Regions from separate parts of the Homo sapiens genome. Here region 2 is reported to be linked to region 1. The links are microRNA targets in miRTarBase. Many come from high-throughput screens and were not tested one by one. Region 1 holds a microRNA gene; the other region holds the end of a gene's coding sequence. Distances are between the middles of the regions.

Region 1 (4,391 bases):
GAGTGGTGGGCAGCCTTCCAAGGGGCCCAGTGTGTGTATTTCTCCGACTTGCTTCTCCTTTTGGGTGCTCTGGGTTCAGGAATATGTAGATATGTTTTGTCTCTTCAAATCCATATACCTAGTGGCCAGGTGAGTATTTGACACATGAATGTATAGCAGTCATTGGGAAACTCCACAGCTCATGTTTTCCTCATAGTAGATGTGTGCTCCCATCTCCATGGCTTTGTCCCTCACAACCCCCACCCCATGGTAAGTCAGGCCAGTGTCCTCCCAGCTGCAGAGCTGAGAAGGCTGCACAGTTGCCTACTGAGAACCTGCCTAGTGGGTCAGAGCAAAGTGAGAACGGGCCTGTGCCCACCCACAGTGTTACTGTCAGCCCAAGCTCTTTGGGATGTAGTGGAAAGTCATGGTGGATACGGTGAGGAGAGATGGAACCCAAGGTGCTGGCTACAGAGCTCACTTGTGTTTCGTTTCAGGGCTCTCTTTACCTATGAAGGCAACAGCAATGACATCCGCGTGGCTGGCACAGGGGGTGAGTATGACTCCAAATGGACTCAGGGACACCAGGAGGTAGGAGGGTGACGACGAGGGGTCAGCGCACTCAGCTGTCTTGGTCCACTGAGCCACATGGGGCTTCCAGTGCTCACTGGCCACTTCTGGCAGGCCTTAGGTTTCAGATATGTGTAAGTGAAAACATTCCTCCTTGGTTCTCCTTCCCTCTGGGTGCAGGGGAGTGCTTTCTCTTTGTCTACTTGGGGAGAGCTGAGAGGGAAACAGGCCTCTCCAGCTTGTGGGCAGCCTGCGTTGGGAGCTGCGGTGGGAAGCTCACCAGTCCCAGAACTGGTGCTGGTGGAAAGAAAGTCCACAGACATATCTTCTTCTCCCTTTGTCCTGCCCTGGTCTTGTGCCGAGTGCTTGCAGGGGCCCCATCCTCACTGGGAGAGGCAGTATCACTGCAGATAGTCACGGGGGAGGCTCTGGAGGTCTCTACAGGAAGGACAGGCTCTTGGCCAGCACAGAGCAGAGGTTGTCAGGGTAGGCTTCGTCAGAGTGTGACCTGTGGGCCCCTCAGCTGACACCCGTGACTGCTCCTCCTCCAGAAGTTGCCTGACCCCTCCCTCTGTCCTGAGCTGGACATGGCTTCATTGTTCAATGAACACTCGGAGTGGTTCTCCACGGTTTGATGTCTGTTGTTGGTAGAAAGCCCCTTCCTTTCACAATCTTTCTGGGAGGTGTCCCCTTTCTAGAAGGATTGCCATTGAACAGTAGACATGTGGTGTGGCAGGTGACTGGGAGTTGCAGAGATCAACAACTTGAGAGTTTCCTGTCATCCCCAGTGGCACAGGACAGGGCTCTGCCACAAATGCAACAATTTGCTGTCCCCAGAGTGGGGCTCATGACTGCCTCCACTCATACGGAGCCCTGTAGATGAAATACCTGATCAGCTCTTCCTCCTTATAACCTGGAAAAGTTTGTGAGGGCTAAGCCTCAGTGTCAGGGAGAATTGTTTAGAGCTGCCCACTCCTGTGCTCCCCCTGTCCCCATCACCCTCTCTTCTGGAGTCTGAGGACTGAGCCAGTTACGCCACTGCAGGATGTTCAATCTGGTCTGGCCGTCTGGGTGGCCCTGGAACTTGAGCAGACACAGGTGCAGGCAGTGGTGACTCTACAGGCCCTGCTATTCCGGGCCCTTTTGCAACGTTGTGGCAACAATAAAATTTTGACGTAGCCATCCTCCATTTGGAAGTCTGGTGGCTGGTTTGCCGTGGAAATGACCCTGTTTTTATTTCCAGAATTACCTCTGGGTTTAGAGAAGTGGTTTTTAAACGAGTGTGGGTAAAAAAAATTACCTGAGGTACTTGTCAGAATCGCAGACTTCTAGGTCCCACCCAGCTCTCATCAATCAGTTTAGTGAGGGTGGTGCCCAGGACTCTGATTTTAAACATACCCCTAGAAAGATTCTGATACAGGTAGAGGTGAGAAGCCCTGGTTTAGAAGCAGCTCGGCCTCCCTTCATGGTGGGACCAGGGCCAGCAGGGAATGTCAGGGCCACCCCTGACCTTCACTGTGACTCTGCTGCAGAGGGTGGCCTGGAGGAGATGGTGGAGGAGCTCAACAGCGGGAAGGTGATGTACGCCTTCTGCAGAGTGAAGGACCCCAACTCTGGACTGCCCAAATTTGTCCTCATCAACTGGGTATGTGGAGCCTGTTTCATCTAGGTGTGACCCAGGAAACCCCATTGTCTTCTTTCCTGTTTTGACTTGACTTCAGGAACAAAGTGTTTTACTGGCATGACTTAGTAGATCAATAGAACAGCTCTGAGCTGGTGAATGAGCAGAATAGTTGACAGATTCATTGTGGCCCAAAGAATAACTGTGGCTTTGCTATGCAGAATTCACCTTCCAAGCCTAGAGTTCTTCCTGCAAAATGGATTAAAAGCAGTCACAGGGAGTCCTTGCTCCGTGCTCTTGAGGGTGGTTGTTCTGATGGAGTAGAGAGCCTGAGGGAGTGTTTAGGAGCCTGGGAGTACAGGGACAGGGCCTCCTTGATCCCTTGGTGGGGATCAAGAAAACTCTTGAAGGCTGGGTGGGGTGGCTCACACCTGTCATCCTAGAACTTTGGGAGGCCGAGGTGGGTGGACTGCCTGAGCTCAGGAGTTTGAGACCAGCCTGGGCAACATGGTGAAACCCCATCTCTACTAAAATACAAAAAATTAGCTGGGCATGGCAGCGTGCACCTGTAGTCCCAGCTACTCAGGAGGCTGAGGCAAGAGAATTGCTTGAACCCAGGAGGCAGAAGTTGCAGTGAGCCAAGATTGCGCCACTGTACTCCAGCCTGGGCCACAGAGCAAGACTCCATCTCCAAAAAAAAAAAAAAAAAGAAAATTCATGAAATGCCCCCACAGCGAAAGCCGGTAGCCATCCTGCCCAGGGAGAATCCATGAGCCCCTTGGAGGCATGGGAACTTACCTCACCCATGTGATGCAGTCAGAAGAATAGGTTCTGCTTTGGGGGTTGCAGTTTTCTCTTTTCTGGGACACAGGGTAGATGTTGGGTCCCCAGGGAAGGGAAGTGGCTTTGGGGGAGGCCTGGGTCAACCTGGGCATCCTTGTGTTGCAGACAGGCGAGGGCGTGAACGATGTGCGGAAGGGAGCCTGTGCCAGCCACGTCAGCACCATGGCCAGCTTCCTGAAGGTAAGGCCAGGTGAGGCCCGCTTCACTGGGAACAGGCCTCACAGGCTTGAGGTCTCGCAGGTTCCTGGGTGCGAGCAAGTGGGAATCAGAACTGGAGTTGGGAGTGTGCTCATAGCTAATGCTCTCTGCCTGCCTTTGAGGGCATGACCAGAGGCTGCTTCACTCTCGGTCAGTGAGTGCATGGGAGGTCAGGATGTTGCCAGGGCCACCTACAGGCCTGCCTCAGTGGGGCAGGATAAAGGACTATGCTGGAGCTGGTGCCGTGAGAAGGGTGGGCCCTGGTTCTGTTTTGTTTTATGATCCCTCTAAACAGTTTAGTAATACCGTCAGGATTTGGAGGAAGGGGAGAGTGCCCACCATCTTAGCACGCATGTGCCCTTTTGATGCATTCCTTTCCAGCCCCCTCTACATGGAGTTATGTCAGTCCTATAATAGAACCTTTTTAAATTTTAAAAACTATTTGTAACAAAAGCATTTGTTGGTCACTTGTCAGGTAACTTTTTGCATTTCTCTGGCAAAGGAGACTCAGAATTTTGATTTCTCGTTCTGCCAACATTTCTTCAGCTATACCTCAGTTTCCATCTAGGAGCTGATAAGAGAATTCCCAGCTTATCGATATACAGGTTTGAGTATCCTTTATCTGAAATGCTTAGGACCAGAAATGTTTTGGATTTTTTCAGATTTGGGAATGTTTTCAGTTCAGCATCCAAAATCCGAAATTCTCCAGAATCTGAATTTTTTTTTTTTTTTTTTGAGACTGAGTCTCGCTCCGTTGCCCAGGCTGGAGTGCAGTGGCGTGATCTTGGCTCACTGCAAGCTCCGCCTCCCGGGTTCACACCATTCTTCTGCCTCAGCCTCCCGATTAGCTGGGACTGCAGGCACCCGCCACCACGCCCAGCTAATTTTTTGTATTTTTAGTAGAGACGGGGTTTCACTGTGTTAGCCAGGATGGTCTCGATCTCCTGACCTCGTGATTTGCCCGCCTTGGCCTCCCAAAGTGCTAGGATTACAGGCGTGAACCACCACGCCCAGCCCAGAATCTGAGATTTTTTGAGTGCTGACATAATGCTTAAAGGAAATGTTCATTGGAGCAGTTCAGATTTTGGAATTTTAGGTAAGGGATGCTCAACCTGTATAGCAACAGTGAATGACGTCATGGGTCTGGCTTCTTATGAAGAAATCATTGGCTTACTTTTTG
Region 2 (4,391 bases), 14 Mb from region 1:
CATGCACCCAGATCACCTGAGTCTGGTGGTTTTGATCTCCGCCTGCAAGTCTACTCAAAGTGGATTGTAGTCTCCTTTGGGCATTCCACAGTCAAGAAGATCTTTGTATCTCACTGGATACCATCTTAATTCTCACTGCAGTGAGACACAAAACAATTGAGAAATCACTGGGTTCTAGACATTGCAAACAATACCCCAGGGACTGCTCTTTTTTATGGCTAGAGTGGTCAGTGCATGGGGTGGGAGCCCTGGGCTGGAAGTCTGAATGCCTAAATCGGTTTCTTGCTTTTCCACTGCCTTAACTTGGGGTCTCCAGCACGTTTTTTTTATTTCTCTGAGCTTCCTGTCAAGTGAATTGCTGATGATTGGTTCTATAAATGTTTATAAGACAGTATTAGGTCCTCACATACCATCAACTACATACCCCATTTCATCTGGTTTCCACCCACAGCCCCTTGGGTAAAAGTCAGCTCTTTGCATAGGCATCTCCCCAAACTTGACAGCCTTGCATGAATGAGAAGCTTCGGGGCCCAGCCTGTTTGGGGGGGTGGAGGAGGAAGGCTTTCATGTGCAAGAGTCTTCTAACTCCACCTGGTAATGTTCTGTTATGTTTCCACAGTTATCTCTAAAGACTCTTCGGTGAGAAGACAGATGAAGCGAAGGTCCTGGGGTTCCAGGTTGCAGAACAACATGTCAGACCCCACCCACCCCATGCTCAAGCTGTAATTCAGTTGGCATACAGGCTTGGAATTGAGAATTTATTTATTGTAAATATGTGATTTGCACGGGCTTTAAAGCAGTATTTTAATTGACTTTTATTTCGGTAATATTTTTTAAAACACCCCTCATTTTTCCATTTTTTGCATTGCATCTTGGCATTTGTCAGCACAGATAGAGCCCTGTCCCTCCACCTAGTGCCCACTCCATGACTGTGAATCTGCTTGCAGGCTGGCCCTTCCTAGATTCTGAACCGTTTGTAGAGAGTCCTTAGTTTGCAGGTAGCCCCAAAGTTATAAATATCCACAACGGCTTCTTATTGGCATAATTTCATATTCTCATCACACTAACTGCAAAATCAAACCAAATAATGCCTTATCAATGATGCAGCTCAGAGGAAGTAGCGTGTCCCCCACACCCAGACAGTGCCGCGCAGCCTCCAGGGAACGAGGTGCCATGTCTCGCTTCCATTTTGCAGTACAGGGAATTTTTTTTTTTTTTTTTTTTTTTTTTTTTGCTGCCTAATGTAATACATCACAAAGTAAAGGCAAGAGTGGGCTTGGCCCTCCGATGCCAACCACAGGGCCCCTTTTGTAACTGAATAATCCTCCAAGTAGCCAGTGCTCCTACTGTTTACAGTGTCCCTCGTGCCCAAGTCTCTGTCACTTTCATCCTGTTCCCTCCAAGTTCCCAGTCCCATCCCAGTAGCCAGCTTTATGAGATTTTGGTATTTCTTCCCTACAGATTAAAAACATACACAACTCATCATTATGCTAAACTACCAGTTGTATCTCAGAGGTCTCCCCTTCTGCCCTTGCTTCGAGTGTGGACTTCCATGGAAAATATGACATGAAAAAGTGTAGAACGAAACATCGTGTGAAATACCTGCCACAAATACCTAGTGCCTCACTGCCCCCATCTTAGGATCCTTGGAGCCACCCGTCAGGCAAAACCTAGCTCCCTTCTGAGCTAAAGGAGAACCTTGCCTGACAACTCCACATTCATTCCCTTGTGGTGGGCACCTGTCTGTGGGGAGATGTGTGCAAGCTCAGCCACTCTGAATATGGAAAAGGTCAGGCCGGGCTGGTCCTGCTCTTCACTCCCTCTTCTTGATCCTGTAGGGAGTGGAAATGTGTTTTTGCTTGCTGCCTGACCCCTGATGTTCCCCATCTTTGGTCGGGGAAGACTGTGACAGAGGAAGGAGAAAAAATAGAAGGAAACAGACTGATCCCTGGGCTGTGCTCAAAATAGCTGCCCTTTAAAGGAAATCAGGCAGGGAGGGGAGGGAAACCAGCGAAAAAGAAATTTGCTTTGCAACAACCCACGCACACATTCACCCCTGAAGTATATCATGAACAGACCAAGCCATCCAGAAAGGCAGCCGGTCAGGAGGGTGTGGGCAAACATGACTGCATCTGCCTCACTGTTGTCTGGAGTAACGACTCAGGTGGTGTCCTGCAGCAGTGCTGTGCTTTCTCATTCCAGATGGAAGCAAGTGAGCCAGGGTCAAATTCCCTTCTCCAGGGGAATGAATCAAGCCCAAACTGTAACAGCTAAATAAGTAGAAGTTTTTGCAGGTCATCAGCTCTGGGCATAACTAATTTGTTTTATTGGTTCTGGAAGATTTCCAAAAAGCCAGAATTTATTATTATAACAGTGTCCACTCCACTGCCCTCACAGTTGTGTAAAATAATTATAGAAGTTTTAATGATCCTGATTAAGAAGACCCTAGACAAAGGCAATTCCACCTTCAGAGTAGACTGCCTGCCCTAATGAGGTGTTTAGACATTCGTGTCTCCTATGGCTGGGATGGAAATTAAAATAACACTATTTAAGGACAGAGCGGGCCAGGAGCAGTGGCTCATGCAGGTAATCCCAGCATGGGAGGCTGAGGTGGGTGGATTACTTGAGGTTAGGAGTTCAAGACCAGCCTGGCCAACATGGTGAAACCCTGTCTACTCAAATACAAAAAATTAGCCAGGCATGGTGGCTCACACCTGTAATCCCAGCAACTTGGGAGGTTCAGGCACAAGAATTGCTTGAACCCTGGAGGTGGAGGTTGCAGTGAGCTGAGATGGCACCACTGCACTCTAGCCTGGGCAACAGAGCGAGACCCTAACTCAAAAAAAAAAAAGGACAGAGGGGAGGAAGGAGCAGAAACCAAAAATGGCAATTAGGGAGAAATCTCAGGAATGTGGCATCCCATCTCCCCTTGAGACCTATCACTGAATTCACAACCCTTCGAGCTCATGCTGGTGCACTGAGTCCCTTGGGCGCTGTAAAGGTTTAACCCCTTGACTGTAAACTCAGACTTAGAGACATCTGAGTCACACAGTCCCCGCCATTGTCACATATTCTCACTGACACTGCAGTCTGTGACTCCTCCAATGTTTCACGTGTATTTTATATTTATTGATGTCTCCTTCCGCAGATTCATTTCTTTGTACTTAATAAACTTTAGTAAGTGGAAATGCTTCCAGTCGTTTCCTTGTTAAAACCCATCGGTGGTCACCAGTATCAATCTAAACCAAACATTTTTAAGGATCAGGAGAAGTTGAAGTTCTAAGAATGATAGAAAAAAAATAGATATTTACATGGATACGGTGCTTGCTGTAACATACTGTGTTAGAAACAGGGCCTTTCTTTCTTGAGCTAACTAGCCTAATTGGTATTTGGAAAAAACAAGCAAGAAAAAAAAAATTTCTCAGGTGCATTTTTTAAAAAGTAGATAACACTATATTTATTCAGTTTGATTAACACAGAATGGGCAGTGTATTGCTTATAAATTCTGCTAAATTGTGTTGAAATAGAACAACCTTCCCTCTACGTGCACTTAGTCCCCACTCCCAACTCAGCAAACCCCCCAAAAAAGCCTCCTGTAGGAACAGAATCATCTTGAATCCCCCTGTAGTATTTTAAGGTGGACCTTTGGGAACAGGGTTCAGGGGAGGTGAGATTTATCTGCTAGGCAAGCTATCTCAGAGCTAGTGCTTAGAAGGCAAACCAGGATCTGAATCTCCATTTTGCCTCTTACAAGTTGCCTCTTACAATCTGTGCCTCAGCTTCCTCATTTGTCAAAAGGGGACATAAATATGTACCCGAGTGTATATTGGTGAAGATTCAATGATGTAATACACATGGGCAAGCCCTCAACCCTTGGATCACAACGGAGCCAGTGATGCACACCCTGCACCCCGGGGAGCAGCCAGTTTGCTGGTTCCATGCTTGGGCACAAACAGGGCTCTGCTGGCTGCATCCCAGGCACTTCATTCAGTATTTGCTGAGCTACTCAGACCACACTTCACTAACTCTGCTGCTGGATAACAATGAGAGAGCAGTCATTAAAATTCATAGATGTTCCTGAAATAAATCTCATCTAGAAACTAATTTCAAAGCTGGTTACTACACACTTTGCATCAGAATTAGTTAAGGGGCCGTTTTATTGCTCTCTTATTGGTGGAGGTACAGATTGGCTCTTTGATGGCCAAAAGGGCCAGTCTGAATGGGGAAGAAAAAGTAAGGGCCGAAGATAATCTACAAAGTGGATGATGAACTTCAGAGTCACATTGAGCATGGCCGTGGTGAAGTAGCTAGAAGTGTAAGCACCTTTTATGGAGCTAAGTGTGAGAGACGTGCTTCCTAGAGAGGGAGCAAGTTAATGGGAAGGGCCATGG

What was found. Region 1 holds the annotated microRNA hsa-miR-6837-5p (ACCAGGGCCAGCAGGGAAUGU, at 2,023-2,043, shown strand). A microRNA usually pairs through its seed, bases 2 to 8, with sites in the 3' UTR of a target mRNA and lowers its output. Matches are read on the target gene's strand: a 7mer-m8 pairs with bases 2 to 8, a 7mer-A1 pairs with bases 2 to 7 and ends in A, and an 8mer does both.
Region 2: the mRNA of WIPF3 is a reported target of hsa-miR-6837-5p. Seed matches in the 3' UTR shown: 7mer-A1 at 2,762-2,768.

What each region holds. Positions count from the first base shown.
Region 1 is chr7:44,049,749-44,054,139 of GRCh38, forward strand. It overlaps MIR6837 (microRNA 6837), which reads left to right and starts at 2,018; the gene lies at 2,018-2,081. It overlaps DBNL (drebrin like), which reads left to right. Exons shown (of 13, transcript NM_001014436.3): 2 at 477-532; 3 at 2,082-2,194; 4 at 3,119-3,193.
Region 2 is chr7:29,913,874-29,918,264 of GRCh38, forward strand. It overlaps WIPF3 (WAS/WASL interacting protein family member 3), which reads left to right. Exons shown (of 9, transcript NM_001080529.3): 9 at 620-3,188. The coding sequence ends at 643. Among named protein-coding and RNA genes, the nearest start is that of FKBP14-AS1, 73 kb to the right of the region's middle.